2 separate regions of the Homo sapiens genome follow, and region 2 is linked to region 1. The links come from fine-mapping of genetic effects on gene expression. Tissue or cell type: tibial nerve. Region 1 holds a variant in brackets; the other region holds the start of a gene. All regions are shown on one strand. Distances are from middle to middle.

Evidence for each region. PIP is the estimated chance that this variant, and not a neighbour inherited with it, causes the effect.
Region 2: it holds the start of TENM4, and the variant in region 1 is fine-mapped to the expression of TENM4 in tibial nerve (GTEx, PIP above 0.99).

What each region holds. Positions count from the first base shown.
Region 1 is chr11:79,231,853-79,240,030 of GRCh38, reverse strand. All of the region lies in intron 2 of TENM4 (teneurin transmembrane protein 4), which reads left to right. Among named protein-coding and RNA genes, the nearest start is that of TENM4-AS1, 140 kb to the right of the region's middle. The variant C/T (reference allele first, on the strand shown) is at 3,299.
Region 2 is chr11:79,436,642-79,444,819 of GRCh38, reverse strand. TENM4 (teneurin transmembrane protein 4) reads left to right here and starts at 3,790. Exons shown (of 34, transcript NM_001098816.3): 1 at 3,790-4,311. RefSeq lists silencers at 3,662-3,831, 4,092-4,201.

The DNA.
Region 1 (8,178 bases):
TTTTCTGTGACGAGTACCTTGCGTTTGGAAAGGCTTTGATAATCAGCAGTATAATGTCACATATGTCTGCTCATTTGATTGCTGCAACAATCGGTTGTTCTTACCTTTTGAAGGAGGAAACAGGCCTGGAGAGTTCTGAAGTGACTTACCCAAAGTCACGTGGTCCCTTAGCTCTGCGCGTGGTCTTTCCTATCTTTTATACCTGAGTGCCCAAGCCTCAGTTTTCTCATTCCTGGGATGGGGTAATGATGTTTAGCCCACAGGTCTAGGATGAGAACAAAACATGTAGAACACTCCGCAGAGTGCCCCAGGAATAGTAGGTGCTGAATGAATGTCAATGATTAGTGATTATTAGTAGCAAACGACTGTTAGTTTCTTTTGTTCTTCTTGAGCACAGGGACACATGTCTTGTATTTCTCTGTGATGCACCATCCCTATCAATGCACCATCATCCCAGAGTTAATGAATGATGGTGCACTGGACAGAGCATGGGCCCTTGAGTTCATGCATCCAGGTCTCTGCCATCTCCTAAGTTGGTCCCACACTCTGCAATTAACCTTCCTGAACCTCAGTTCATCTCATCTATAAAATGAGGGTAACACCTGCCTCACAAGATACTTGGGAAGATTAAATGAGCCAAGGTATTTTGGAAGTGTCTGACTCAGAATATACAGCAGCAAATATGACTCCCTTTTCCTTCTGGTTGTATTTTTCGTGGATGAGAGACATATTTTTGATAAAAAGCATATTGCTTCCTGTCGTGTTTCTTCAGTAGGACTTTTCAAGACTGGTTTGATGAGAAAGTGTTAACTGAGCATATCTGATGAGCACAAGGCTCTGTGGAGGTGCAGAGGAAACATAAAATGTGGCCCCACCTAGAGGGCCCTGTGATGTTTCACCTGTGACTTGATGGCATCATGTCCTTCTGCAACCAGAGCTGTCTCTGCAGACAGAGCTCAACTGAGAGCACCTAATTCTTTTTGCGTGTTTGTTTGTTTGTTTGTTTGAGACAGAGTCTTGCTCTGTTACTGAGGCTGGAGTGGAATGGCACAATTTTGGCTCACTGCAACCCCTGCCTTCCAGGTTTAAGCGATTCTCATGCCTCAGCCTCCTGAATACCTGGGATTACAGGCATGTGCCACCACACCTAACTAATTTTTGTATTTTTAGGAGAAACGGGGTTTCACCACGATCGCCAAGCTGGTCTTGAACTCCTGACCTATGGTGATCCACCCACCTCAGCGTCACAAAGTGTTAGATTACAGGTGTGAGCCACTGTGCCTGGCCTGCACCTAATTCTTGAGTCCTGTATTAGTCTGGGTTCTTCAGAAAAACAGAACCAACAGGAGAGAGAGAGAGAGAGAGAAAGAGATTTATTATGAAGGTTTGGCAATTATGAGGGCTTGGAAGACCCATGATCTGCCACCTTCCAGGAGGCCCAGGAAAGCCAGTGGTGTAGTTCTGGCCCAAACCCTAAGGCCTGAGAACCAGGGGAGCCAGTGTAATATGTCCCAGTTTGAGTCAAAAGGCTCGAGAACCAGGAGTTCTCATGTCCAAAGGCAGGAGGAGATGGATCTCCCAGCACAAGCACAGAGCAAATTCACCCTCCCTCTGCCTTTTTGTTCTATTCAGGTCCTCAAGGGATCGGAGTGCTGCCCACACACATTGTTGAGGGGGGTCTCCAATCTCTCCCAGAAACACCCTCACAGACACAACCAGAAATAATGTTTAACCAGATATCTGGGCATTCCTCAGCCCTGTCAACTTGACACATGAAATTAACCCTCACAGGTCCCATCCCCCTGAGTCCCCAAGTCCAGGACAGCTGGACAAGTCAAGGAAGGGCTTCCTTACAGGTAAATAGAGAAATACAATTCAGACAGCACTCCCAAACCGTGAGTGCATATTAATCTGCGGGGACAAATATCATAACATAATTAGTACAGCAGTGCTCCCAGCTTAATTGAAAATGCTGCATATGAGGGGCAGTTAATGAGAAATGCAAGATGTGATGATTCAGAACTGCTGAGATTTAGCAGCTCGGTGGCTGTAGCGAGGAAGTGTTGGGCTTTTTTCCCTTTGCTATTCTCTTTGTACATCTGGACAGGAAGGGGGCTGAAAGGAGTTACTAACAGTGTGTATGGTTAGAGAACTTTGATTATCTGGAAGTCCCTCAGCTATTTGGAATGCAGCAGAGAGCTAGCCAAGCAGGAAACGAAAAAGAGCCTCTGAGCCGACAAAACACATTTCTATTTGGCCGTGCACTGCAGTCTTCAGATTTTTGTGATACGAAATCCTCTCAACCCACACTCACAACTGATTTGTTTGTGCTTACTTTATTTTTTTATTTTTTTGAGACGGAGTCTCGCTCTGTTGCCCAGGCTGGAGTGCAGTGGTACGAACTTGGCTCACTGCAACCTCCACCTCCCAGGTTCAAGTGATTCTCCTGCCTCAGCCTCCCAAGTAGCTGGGATTATAGGTGCCTGCCACCACACCCAGCTAATGTTTGTATTTTTAGTATAGACAGGGTTTTACCATGTTGGCCAGGCTGGTGTCAAACTCCTGAACTCAGGTGATCCGCCTGCCTCGGCCTCCCAATGTGCTGGGATTATAGGCATGAGCCACCATGCCAGGCCCTATGTTTACTTTATACCAGAGTTTAATAAGCCAGGTGATCTGATTTCCCAGGCATTAGCAGAACTGTAGCAGGGCATCAGGGCAGTGGTGGGTGGGGCCTCCGGAGGAGCTTGTCTCTCCACCCTGTCTTAGTCCAGTCATCCAGTTAATACAGGTCTTTAAGGCGCAATGTATGTTTGGGGCATAGGGGAGATAAAGACATAAAAAAATCTCTTCTCTTTAAGGAGCTTACAGTTTTGGGACAGACGGGTGTTGGCTCAGTCAATGTTCTTAGTTTCAGACAACAGAATCTATTCTGTCTAGTTTAAACAGAAAAGGATTTAATACAGGATATTAGATGGCCTGCAAACCTTTCAGGAATGCCAGGGACTCAAGCTTGGCTGCCAGAGAACCAGAGAAGTACCTGGCATGGCATAGGGCTCCTTTAACGGAATCCCCTTTGTCTCACTCCTTGGGACTCAACATTCCGGGAACCAGACAGCAGAGCCTACGCCACAGCTGTCCAGATAAACAAACACCTCCACCACTGTGTGGGTGGGAAGATCCAGTGCACCCGAGCATAGTCACCACCTCCTGTAACAACATCCGCCCTCTACAATCCTGTGGGTGCATTTGCTCCATAGAACTTGGGTCTCGCCGCAAGGGAGTCAGTATATTGTTT[C/T]CAGCTGTCTAGGCTCGTGGAAAAGAAAGCACACTGGAAGGAGGTTGAAGTGGGTGTTGAGAAAGCCTGTATTTGGTATCTGCTGCAGATGTGGCCAGATAATGAGAGTCCAGTGAGCCAAGTCCTGCTGTACAGTTGTGTTCTGAGGGTTCGCTCACCATCCGACACAAGCACAACAAAGCGAGCACAAAGTGATACTGGAGTGCTGACAGTCAGGGAGAAGATCACAGCGCGAGAAAGAGAGAGCGCAGAAACTTCAAAAGCATGAAATGATGCTGGGGCCATTTCATTTAGGAGCAAATAACCCTGCAGAAGGTAGTCACAAAGGGCATCAGCGTAATAGAGCAGAGTAAAAAGAATAGCTGTGCGTGATCCTTAGCCATCAAGGAAAGTTTAGATTGCATTCAGGAGACTTCGACTAGAAGGCAGGAATGTCTCAAACAGGCATCCGAAGGATTTCCACAAATAACGAGGTGCATTTTCCCTTTACAATTTGTGCTACAGGACTGAGACGTGGAAATCTGGGGACTCATGTACTCTGTGTTATTATTGATTATATACCTTTTTTCCATACGGTATCAGGTAATGGAGGTTTCATGGCAGCATCAGAGGCCTCTCACTCCCCAAATGAGTACCATATAGGCCAGGGACCGTGAACCCTGAGTATCCTTCCTACAGGAATCAAGTCTCCCGAAAACAGAAATGCAGACACTTTTGGAAGAGGAGCGCATTGTTTACAGGGCAGCAGCGGCTTTCTCCTATGCATTGTATGAATGCACAGAAGGAAGAGCTTGAACCTCAGGCATCAGGGCACGAAAGAATCCATCTAAACAAGCAAAACAAGTTCAGCTAAAAAAAAAAGTCCTCATTCTTACCAGAGTTCAGATAAATCTAGGAAAGCTCAAAGAAAGGAGGGCAAGGGGGCCTGGAGAAGGGAGTGTTCATTATGAGGAAAAGAGTCGTTTCCATAGAGCCACAGACCAGTGATCAGTTTTTGAACCTGAAGAGCTCAAAATACATTTATGCACTTGTATAACTATTTATAGTCATACGTTGATGTATTTATAGCTATGTGGAGGCTGACACTAAGGCCTGTTTTCTTGTCCCCTGGTCCAGCTTTTAGTTCCCATTTCTCTGCCTTCCCAAACCTTCCTGTCTTGAGTTCCATTTGATCAATCATTAACAACAGTCTTGCCAACAATGCTAACGATTATCATTAGTGTTATTACAGAGGTCCTAGGGTCCCTATCTTGAGCACCTCCCCTGTGTCAGGCCGCATGACTAGGGAAGAGAGCAGCAGGAGCTTCATCCGTCCCAGGTCTCAACCCTGCATCTCTCACTTTGTACTCTACAGGGGGGCCACCCTGTCTCTCAGAATTTGACTGGAATGCTTGTCAGGGAGACTTCATTTTTTTTTGGAGACGGAGTCTCACCTTGTCACCCAGGCTGGAGTGCAGTGGCGCGATATCTTGGCTCACTGCAACCTCTGCCTCCCAGGTTCAAGCGATTCTCCTGCCTCAGCCTCCCGAGTAGCTGGGATTACAGGCACACACCACCACGCCTGGCTAATTTTTTGTATTTTTAGTAGAGACGGGGTTTCACCGTGTTAGCCAGGATGGTCTCTATCTCCTGACCTCATGATCCACCCGCCTCAGCCTCCCAAAGTGCTGGGATTGCAGGCATGAGTCACCGCGCCTGGCCAGTCAGGGAGACTTCTGATGGGATTTTTAGTCTTCCCTCTTGGTATTTTAACAAGGCCCTGTGGCTTCACTGAGCCCAATGCCAGATATTTGGTTTCTGGAAAGTTCAATGCTTCAGTAGATATTTTCTTCTTACCTTGCCAGACCCCGCAAGCCAGGTGCCCCGCATCCAGGGAAAAGGCTCACTGCGGGCCCCACTCCAAGGACACAGGCAACGTATTCATGGGTACACTGTTTCTTTTCCTAAGGGAAGCACTAGCGCTGGGAAATAAACCCACCTCCATTCCCACGTAGCAATTATGTGCACAATTACAGTTCCAGCAGGTGTCACTTAAAAGGATGAGACCCATTAAGTGTTTAAATGAGAAAGCAGAAAGGAGCCTCTGAGAACTCCCAGGAAAGCCACTCTGCAGAGGTGGAAGAAGGGAGCACATGGGACCTTCCCTGAGCATTTCCTTGCCCTCACCCTCCACCCACCATGCTTTCCCATAAGTGATCTCATCCCAGCCTGAGGGCAGCCCTTGGTACAGAGGTTAACAGGCCTTTGTGAGCTAATGGAGAAATTGAGCTCAGCCCCATGCAGTGAATTGCCCGAGGCCTCTTAGCCAGTAAGAACTGACATAAGATGCACATGCCTATACAGGGAATGCATGCCAATATCATTCATCATTTCAGGTCCATAGAGGGCCAAACCTTCCCTTCGCTTTTTCTATAGCTTTCAGGGTGCCCAGCACATATCAAATACCCAATAAGTACTTGACAGGCTTCTTTATAGCAATTTTCTCCCCATTGTTCAAATGATGAATGAAGCATTCAGAGGAAAAGAAGGTCAAAGGGAAGAAAGTGCCAGGCATATGCAAGCTTATTTCAATTAACATTTACAGTACAAAGTGGGTTTTATTGCTTTTACAGATAGGGAAACAAGTCTCAGAGAAATGAAGGGACTTGCCCAAGTCTACTTGGCTGTTGAGTAGCAAACGCCATATTTGAACCCAGGTCTGCCTGAGTCCAAACTCTGTGCTCTTTGCACTACATTGAACAACCTCCGTTGGGATCCATCACACTGCAGAGGTAACTGCATGCTTCCCCTCACACAGCCATGTGGGAGGTGAGTTCAGGGATGTCACCCTTCAGTACAACCTATTGAAAGGGCCTCTTCCTTTTCGCTCATTGGAAGGATCCAGACCATGGCTAAGCCAGAAGAGCCTTCTATTTGCTGGAATCATGTAAACTCTATTTCTGAGCCATCTTAACCAAGGTTTGCCCACTGAAAGTTCACAAAGGGCCACCTGGAGGTGGGGTAGGAATACATACCAGGGCTCTACTGGCCCACAGGCCTGCTTCTACCCCAACTGGCGATCTCCTCTCCCCATTCACAGCCCCCCGCCTTGCCCCACCAATATGAAGTACTAACACCTGGGTCCGTGTCTCCCTGTCTTGCCTAAGTGCCTCACATTCTGCTCCATCTGGAAACCAGGGGTCAGCCTCAGGCACAGCTCTCTCACCCTTTCTGTGCCATCACTTACCAGGTTTTATTAAGTTCATCTACCATCCTCACTCAAGTCCCCTCCTCCTTCCCGTCCCCCTGCCTCTTCCACAATCTAGACCTTTGCAGCAGCCTCCTCCCTGGTCTTCATAGCTCCCTTTCTGCCCCCATCTTCTGTATAATTATAGATGAGCTTTGTCAAACATGTACTTTAACCATCCAACCAGCCACCCAACCTTCCATCTGTCCAATACATGTTTACTGAATATATGCATATTTGCTATGTGTCAGAGTTCATGCTAGACTTGGGATGCAGAGCTAGATAAGAAATAGACCAGTCTGTAGTGGTGGAGAGAGATATGTTAGTAAATAACATTGTTTGGGAAGGGAAACCCAAGGCATGGCGTCTGACTCAGTCTGGCAGCCTCAGCGGAGGCTTCTAGAGGGGCTGGCATGGGGTCAGGGCAACTGTGCATATACAAAGGCTTGACCCTGCATTGCCCATGTGGGGAGCTAAAAATGCCCAACAAGCCTAGAGGGAAGGGTGGTTCCTGGCAAGGCAGAGACCAAACCATGAAGTGCTTTGTGCTGTGAATCTGGAATTTCACCTGTTGGCAATGGTACACCCCGGACAGTTTTAACCAAGGGAGTGCCATGGGCAGGGAGCTCTAAACCACTCCACTCTCCTGACCTCACTTGGGTGTCCTGGTGAGCTTTTGCCCAGGTTCCAACCTCCAACCAGATCACTGATTCACCTCCTTTTCTGGCTGACTGAGGATCTATCCAAACAGCAATTTTATTCTCCCAGACACTGCTCACCCACAAGAGTTCGGAATCACCCTTGGAGAAATTCCTTTATATTCTCCCTGTGTTCTGGACACAATGTGTCTTGAATATTAGCACAATTCACTGGACTGGTGCCTGTTGAGTGTGTGGATGGCGAATTGTTTTGGGATGCACTCAGCAGCTCCTGCCTCACCACATCTGCCCATCATCCTGGAGTGCCTGGTAGGAGCAGATAATAAATGGGCCAGCTGCCACCTCCTGCTTTTCTAATCATCTGTCAAAGAAATGGAAAACTCACTCGCAGTCACTGCTGAATGCAGATGGGGTCAGTGCATGTTGGGTTCAGAAGTAAGGAAAAGGAGGGGCACAGGCTGGGGCTGCCCGTGCAGGGTTTCTGCGCCTGAAGACTCTGCCCCAGCATGCTCTCTTGGCCTTAACCTGCCCTTTCTTCATGCGTCCTGCTAGCCTCTGTACTATCTGAAACAGTCCTCACCAGCTTCACTTCAGGGCCCCTTACACATTACTGACTCCACAGAAAGCATGACCCAGAACCCTGAAGAACTGGGTTGGAACCCTTGGCTCTATGACCTTGGACCAGTAACTTCCCCTCTTGGAGTAGTGGGGTTTTATTTATTTTTTTGTTTGTTTTGTTTTGTTTTGTTTGCTTTTTCTTTTTTCTTTTCCAGACAGTCTCACCCTGTCCCTCAGACTGGAGTGCAGTGGTATGATCTTGTCTCACTGCAATCTCCACCTCCTGGGTTCAAGCAATTCTCCTGCCTCAGCTTCCCAAGTAGCTGGAATTAAAAGCATGTGCTACCACGCCTGGCTAATTTTTCTATTTTTAGTAGAGACGGGGTTTCACCATGTTGGCCAGGCTGGTCTTGAACTCCTGACCTCAAGTGATCTCC
Region 2 (8,178 bases), 200 kb before region 1:
TCTCATAATGTATCTGCCTCCATAAGAATGCCCTCTCCCCCTCTCTAGCCCAGCTACTAATTTCCCCTGATTTGTTAAATGCCTCCTTATTTCACTCTCAGAGATAAAACTCAAAACGCAGTTACTCTTCAGGGGGAGTGGGAACGGTGGATTGAAAAGGGATAAAGTCAGGGGAGGGGGAATGATCATAGCCATGTCTTTGTGTTTTTTTAATGGCAGCTTTAAAAAGTTTTTATAATGGAATAATGAATGTTTATAGTAGGAAGATTATAAAATGCCAGAAAAAGTATAAAGAAGAAAATATATATTACTCATAACCCCATCACCCAGAAGAAAACACGGTTAATATTTGGCATTTTTTTCTTCAGACTTTTCTGCAAGAGGGTTTTTATGTAGCTAACAATTTTGAATTCTCTTTTAAAATATTATATATGACAATACTAACTTTTTTATGGCACGAAAAACTGCAAAAACACTTTCGAGTAGCTGCATAATATTCCAACAAAGGCTGTCCTCCAGTTTACTTATTTTATTTGACCATTTAGGCTGCTTCAATTTTTTTCCCATTATTACAAATAATGTACTGTCATTATATCCAATCTCCTGTTTTTCTGGGCAATACGTAGAGCTGGCTGTTTGGAGGTCTTAGGCTGAATTTTACAACTAGTGTTTCCTATGGCACAGAGCAGCCATATAGGAGAATCTCCGGTTAGCTATAGAGTTAGATTATAACATGGTAGCAACTGACCTTTTTTCCCCCCTCTAAAATGCTCCCTGAATTCTACTTCCTCCTGAATACTCTTGACATCGCAATGAGTAGTACCACCTTCTATTGAGATACCCAAGCTTGAAAACTGAGTGTCACTTTGGGCTTCTCCTTGCTACCCCCATCCAATCAGAAATCAAAATCATCCTCAATCTCTCTCAAATCTCTCCTCCCTTTTCTGGCTTCATTGCAACTGCCTTAGTTTCCCTAAATGACCTACTTTTTCCTGCCTCTACTCTTCCTAAGTCACCCCAGTTAATCCATTTCTCTACACTGCTGCCAAATCATCTTTTGAAAACACACTCAAGATCACATCCTTCCTCTTCTTAAAAGCCTTTATTAACTGTCTACCCTCCTTCTGCCCCAGTACCTGAACTTTCAGGATGTTTGGATCCTTAGCCTCCTTCAGGCCCTGTCAAAATCCAATCCTAGATGCTAGGGACTCATCTAGACTCCTCCAAGACCCTCCCCCAATATGTCCAACTCTGCTATGAGTGTCTCATGCTTTTGTCCATGTCATCATACTATTGCCTGTACCTAAAAAGCATCTCCCCTCCTTTCACGGTCTAGCTAATTCCTTGCCTTCAAAACTCAGCTCAAGGCCAGGTATGGTAGCTCACACCTATAATCCCAGCACTCTGGGAAGCCTAGGGCAGAGGATTGATGGTATTTGAGACCAGCCTGGGCAACATAGTGAGACCTCATCTGTAAAACAAACAAACAAACAAATAAAATTAGTTTGGCGTGGTGTGGTGGCACATGCCTGTGGTCCCAGCTACTCAAGAGGCTGAGGTGGGAGGATCACCTGAGCTCAGGAGGTTGAGGCTTCAGTGAACCAAGATGGCACCACTGCACTCCAGCCTGGATGACAGAGTGAGAACCTGTCATCTCCTATGGGAAGTCTTCCCTTACTCCCAACAATTCCATTGGGCATCCCTCATGATTAGATTCAGGTTATTCATGTCTACCAGGAATATCACAGAAGTGATATGTCCTTCCCAGTGCACTATATCAGGGGCCACTTGATGTCTATTTGTCACATTCCTGCTAATACTGATTTTAATCACTCAAGGTGGAGTCTTTCAGGTTTTCTATTGAAAAGTTACTATTTTCCCCTTTGAAATTAATCAGTATCATGTGGGCAGATACTTTGAACCTATATATATTTTTTGTTTCTCAACATACTTTCACCCACTACTTTTAGCATCTGGGTCTCATTTTTCTCACTGGTCAAATGAAATGCATAGACTGAAAGTGATTTGCAAAATTATCACTCTCAAAGATCCCTTTCTTATACTCCCTGTCTTGGATCTTCTGTAATGAAAGAATTTGTCCACCAAACCAATGTTACTCCTTCAGGTACATGTGTCTCATTTTCTCAGTGTACATTCATGAAACATGCCTACTGAACTGTAAGCTCAGAAAACAGGGCCTGTTTGTCTCACCACTGAATGCCGAGACCTATCACAGCACCTGCCACAAAGTAGGTGGTCAAGAAATATTTGTTGAAGGACTAAATCTAACTGCCAATCACAGCTGATGCCCAGCATTTGATGTCTGCAGTGAGGACACAAAGTTGATAAATGCTATTCAAAGGCAGAGACTTGACATTTTAGTTAATCTCAGAGGCTTTGTCACTGGTCACTGTACACTTATCATAAAGATTTTAAAAATAGATTGGACAGATTGTGTGGAAACTTCCCACCCACCCCAACCCATCCCTGCCTTTCTGAGATGCCCTAGTTATGAGATGTTGAAGGGGCATTCCAGCACCCCACGTTTATAATCTGTGATGCCTTTATAATCAGCATATGGCAACTGGCTAGACAGTCTCCTCACCACACAGAAGAGTTTTCAAAATAGCCTACCCCTCCTTTCACATTTATGTGAAATTAGCATTGTCACATTTCCTCCTTCATTGACTACTTTAGATCAGAGAGACACACTGTAGCAGAAGATCATGAAGGAAGTTGTCTTAAAGAAGGAAACTAACATAAATTAAGCATCTCATATACACCCAGTGCTTTCTTTCCATTGTTCTCTCTTTTAATCCTCACCAAAACTGGTGAAGTCGGTATCATCCATTTTATAGATGAGAAAACTGAAGCCGGGTAAGGGGAAATGGCTCGCACTAAGTCCTTTAGCCAGCAGGCAGCAGGGCTGGAGTGGGAATTCCTCCAGTCTCTTCCCCAAAGCCCTTCCAAGTTGCCACTCAGTCAAACTACCGCTCTCATCACATAAAAATGCCCTTCTCTTGGAAATGTGCTTGCCATCACGATCCAAACATTCGAGGGACAGAAATCTCTTGGACCGCAATCACTGCTATTTTTTAAGTGATTGTTATCACGACTCAGTAGCTGTTACCATGGTTTTGGGGAAGTTGTCCGAGGAAGGAGGGCCTTTCTTTGGGCATCTTGCATGCCTGAAGAAGGAACTCAAGATCTCAGCTCTTAATTACTCTGATTGTGCTGCAGTAGCAACTTGAAAGAGACCGTCCCTAGAAAAGTGTTGGGGTGGGGGGTGTGGAGTAACATCCAGCGAGCAGGCAGAAGGGAGGCCCTGGGCGCCAGAGAGACCCAGGGAAAGGCGAAGAGGAGGGAGAGGGGACGAGACCGTGCTACGGGGAGCCTGGAGAGAAAGCCAAAGGAGGAGGAAAGAACAAAAGGCAAGAGGAGAGGAAGTACAAGAAAGTCCAGAAAGGAAAAGAGAAAGTTTCAGAAAGGGGAAGAGAAAGCAAGCAAGGAGGGTAAAAGAAGAAAGAGACCAGAAAGATACCGAACTGAGAGAGCTCGGAGAACTCGAGAAAGCAAAGGAGGTAAAAGGAGAGAAGATGGAGAAGGCGGCGGAGAGGAAGGGGGAAGGAGACAGAGGAACCGAGACTGGGGTGAGGGAGCGGCCGCGCGTGGCCCCCGGAGAGGCGCCCATCACCTGCGTGGCGCCCCCCCGCGCCGGAGTGCGGCCCTGCTCCCAGCGCCAGTGCGCCGCGCGGCTCGCCGGCCTCGTAGGATTGGCTACCGCCTCCCATTCATGTAACCTGCGTGTGCGTGTGCGTGTGTGTGTGTGTCTCTCTCTCGCTCGCCCTCTCTTTCTGTGTGTAAGAGAGCGAGGGTGGGGGACGGAGGCAGGCAGGCGAGCAGGCAGGGAGGGGAAGAAGAGAAGGGAAGCTATTAAACACACACACACACACACACACTCACACACGCGCGCGCACACACCCGCCCCAACCCCCCAGAAGCCTCGGGATTGCAGCTGTTTCATGTGGGGCAGCAGTGCTGGCAGGGACGCCGGCCGGGAGCGGCCGGGAGCGGGAGCCGGTCGTGCGCGCGCGGCTGGAGGCTCGCTGGGGCTCCGCTCCCCGCGGGAGCTATTGTTGGTCTCGCTGGAGCTGAGCGCAGAGCCCGGACCTGCTCCTTCCTGGGCGCCCCGCTACGGCTCGCGGAGCAGAGGAGCCGCGCCGCCGAGAGAGAGAGGAGCCACCGGCGCGGCGCCTTGCCTCCCTGCCGCCGTCCTCGCCGCTTCCCCGGCGGTAGCAGCCTGCAGCCACGGTAAGGCGGCGTGATCCGCTCTACGGAAAAGCGCCTTGGGGACCGCGGCGACGCCTCGCCAGCTCCATCGCCCTCTGCACTGCTGGCCCGGGCAGGGTTCGGGTAGCTCACGCGGCTGCCGAGGGCTCCGGGAGATGTTTGCTTGCTCCCCTGGCCCAGGAGGAGGGAGGCTAGGGCGCGGGTGGCCGAAGAGGCAAGCTGTTCTGGAGCCTGGAGCCGCCGCAGCCCCCGGAGCCCGCCGCGGACTGGAGCCTGGGAGCAAGGGTTGGGGGAGGGCAGGGAGGTGGGAAGCGGGTGGGAGGGAGGCGGCGCGCCCCAGGTTCGTCTGCCTCTCCCGGATCCCGTTCCCCGCCCCGGCCCGGTCGCCTGCAGCCCCTCTGCAGACTAGCTCGCCCCAGGCCCCCGTCGGGCGCTGGAGGAGCCCGCGAGGCGGCGCCGGGCTTCAGCGGCTGCAGCCTGCCCTGCGGGGCAAGTGCCGGCTGCAGCAGCCCCGCACGGGCGGTGGTTGGAGCTCAGATCCTGGAGATGCGACCCCAGCTCCTCGCCCTCTGCAACCCGCGGGGCGCCCGCCTCTCCTCACCGGGCGCCCGGCCGCGGTATTGATGTTCGTCTAGGAGCCAACTGAGGCTGCAGCCGCCAGATGGACGCTTGGAGGGCTCCCGGGTGTGAGTGTGACTGTATGACTACTCTCACCCCCAGCTTCGGGAAATGTGCTCTGGGTTGAAATGTGATCACCGAGCTCCTCAGTCATTTTAATTGCCATTTTTAAATGCGGTCGTTACATTGGAGGAGCAGACTGGAAGGTAGTGGGGCGGCGTGTGTGTGTGTGTGTGTGTGTGTGTGTGGACACACACACGCAACCGAGGAATACACAACCAACTACTTGGGTGAAGGGCGGGGGGTTCACCTAGTGAGTCCTTCTTGGCGGGGGGGTCGGGCGAGTTAGCTGCCCGCTGCCCGCCCCTTCTCTGCCTGCCCCCGCCTAGGCGAGGTTGGAAAGTACTGGAAATTCAGCTGCGTGGTCCTTAACTTTGGAAATTGGCTCCGCTTTCAGGGCAAAATGTTAAGGCGATTTATGCACCCGCGTCCATGTGGATGAGTGTATTACTGCTCAGTTGGGTGCAGAGCCCTCAACAGTACCGCGCCAAGCCCCCACCCGATCTCTAACTCCCTCCCACCCCCTAACCGTGGAGAGAGGGTTTATAGAAATGCAGTTATCTGTAAACCATCGACGCAGTGAAAGGGGCGCAGGGAGGCAGCCAGAGTTTTGCCTGAACCTGCATACTGGCTTGGTGTTTGTAGCACACGAGATCACCCCGCTGCTTTGTAGAAGGCGGTGGTGGGGCAAGCTCGGGATTCCAATCGCCGGGGTGGGGGGTGGGGGGAAGAGGGTGCCCATGTACTGAGCTCTGAGGCCGAGTAAGGAGAGAGATCTGCTGAGCGGCATCGCGGGCAATTACATAAGCTGCCTCGGTGATTACCCGGAACTGTGATGCGAGCTCCCGGTTCTCGAAAGACAAGCCTGAAAGTTTGCCTGCTTGGGGAGTGTAAGTACCGGGGCGCCCCCACCCCGGCCTGGGTAGCTAGGATACGCCTCGCACCACGGCGCCCACTTGTGCGATGGGCGTCGGGTGCTGATGCTGCTGTCCCCAAAGAACCGGTTACCGAGGCAGGGACTAAGTGGGGGCATCCGGAATTGATCGCAGAGGAGGAGTCAGTCAGAACTGAGGTTTCATTGGGTCTTCAGAGCTCCAAGTCTTCCCTCGGAGGTGTTGGAAGGCCTTCCAGGGAACGCCGTTTTCAGAAACTGACTTGGTGTCCTGGGGAGCCCCAAAGCCCCTCTTTTCCGCCCTTCCTGGGCGCCCCTCCTTGTCTTTCAAGCCCTGTGCCCTTCACGTGTTTAGAAACCTGCCCGCGGTGCCTGGTCCCCCTTGGAGATGCCCAGGCAGCCCAGCCATCCAGGCCCACGCTGGCGAGGGGTTAGAGGGAGTAGAACGCTGGCTCTGCCGGGCTGCCACCCTTACCTACACCTATTCCTGGTTTCCTGCGCTAGCCCGGCGCTGATGGGGACGGGATGGGGCTGGGGTCGGGTATGGCTTCCGTTCCTTCGCCTCTCGCCTCTGCAGACAGCAGTTTGCTTCTGTTGCGTTTATTCTCCCCGTTTCGCCGCTTCCCTCCAGCGCCGCAGCCTGTGTATCACGTTGATGGGCTTTGATAGAGAAACCACAGTAAGAGTATGCTTTTAAATCTTGATTTTCGTCTGTAGGGGGATAAGCCACCCCAGCCCTGACACAGCCGTGGGGAACGCTGAAGTCTGGGACACATTGGCCCTGAACTCCCTTCCCCCCAGCCCGCAGTCAGGAGATGGTGATGTGCATGGGTGGGGAGTGTTTTGTTTTTGCCACATTCCAGCGTCCTGAAACCTCTCGTCCCCTCCCACTGAAATCCCCGATCTGTCTGAATCTGTTCCTTGCTGTAAAATAAATCCTCCCTCCCGCAGACCTGTGGGGCCCTTCGGATTTCCTGCCGCTGCCATGATCCTTAACAATGCGATTGAAAAGCCAGTGCTCGGCTGGAAAAAAATCCCCAGGTGCCAGCCGGCCGCGCCTTGACCTTGCTGAAGGAGCCTTTAACCCGGCTGCCAGAGGGGCTCTGGTCCAGCCGTGGGAATCCAGGAAGAAGGAGGGCGCCCCGGAGGCGGCTGGGTTAGCTCCCCGGGCAGGGCGGGAATCAGGTCGCGGCGGGGACCGCAGAGGGGGAGGGGACGGGACTCCGCGGCAACCTGTTTCCCGGCGAGCCGGGCCCGCGCATCCCAGCTCCCTCGCCCCAGCCCCTCGTGGCCCGCCTCCCCCGCCGGCCTCCAGTTGTCTTCGTGGTACAGGAGTCGGCCGCGACTCCCTCGCGCTCTCCGCCGGAGTCCGCGGGACGCCGCCAACTTTGGGCTCCTCGGTGGCCGGAGCAGCGGTGCGAACCAGCGGGGCGGCCGGGTGGGCGGGGCCTGGGCGGGAAACTGGAGCCGAGAAGACCGCGTTCCAGGCCAAGTTCCAGCCGCAAGCGCCGCGCGGCACAGTGCAGGGTCCCGGCCGCGCCTTTCTCCCGTCCCCGGCCCGGCCGCGTTCCTGCGGACTCACAGCGCGCTCCGGGCGCTCTGCAGTTGGGCTTTCAGCGGGGGAGCCCTTCTCGTCAAAGTTACGAGGGGTGTTTTCACTGGTGGTGACAGTGGGAACTAGTTTTCTGCGCGCCTGTGTGTGTGTGTGTGCATGTGTTGGGGAGCAGAGAGATTTGCAGCGAAGTCACACATAGCACAAAAAACAGGTTTCCCCTTTCCAGGTGTTATAAGGGAATGCTGAGGAGGAATCCGTTTTCTCCGGTGAGGGTGTTGACGGGAAGCCCTTCCACTTAGTGGAACTGGACCTGTTGGAGCTGATTGCCTGGAGTGAACGGGTGTCTCCTTTAGCGGCACCTGTGTGCCGTAGGTCCTTGGAAATGTTTGGGGAACTGAAAGTCCTCAAGATATTCAGCCAGGACTTAGGGCATAGATGTTTGTGTGCTTTTAGGGGGCTAATTCGGGGAAGCTTTTATTTCCAGCATGTGTCTTGAACTGAGGGGAGGGCAGGGTGCGGAAGGCTTGTGGAATTGCCATCTTCTGTGGTGGGGGAAGGGATCAGGGACGGAGAGCTTTGGTTTTCTAGAAAGAGTTCTTGGGTTCTTCCTCTGCTCTCATCTTGTTTTCATCAAGGCCTCTGTTTGGGGGTGGAGGTAGAGTGGTGCGGTAAGCGGATCAGCCACCCTAATAGACCGGCCTTGACCAGTGCGGATGCCAACGGGCAGAACTAGTGCTTGGTCTGAACAAGAACCATCAAAGGA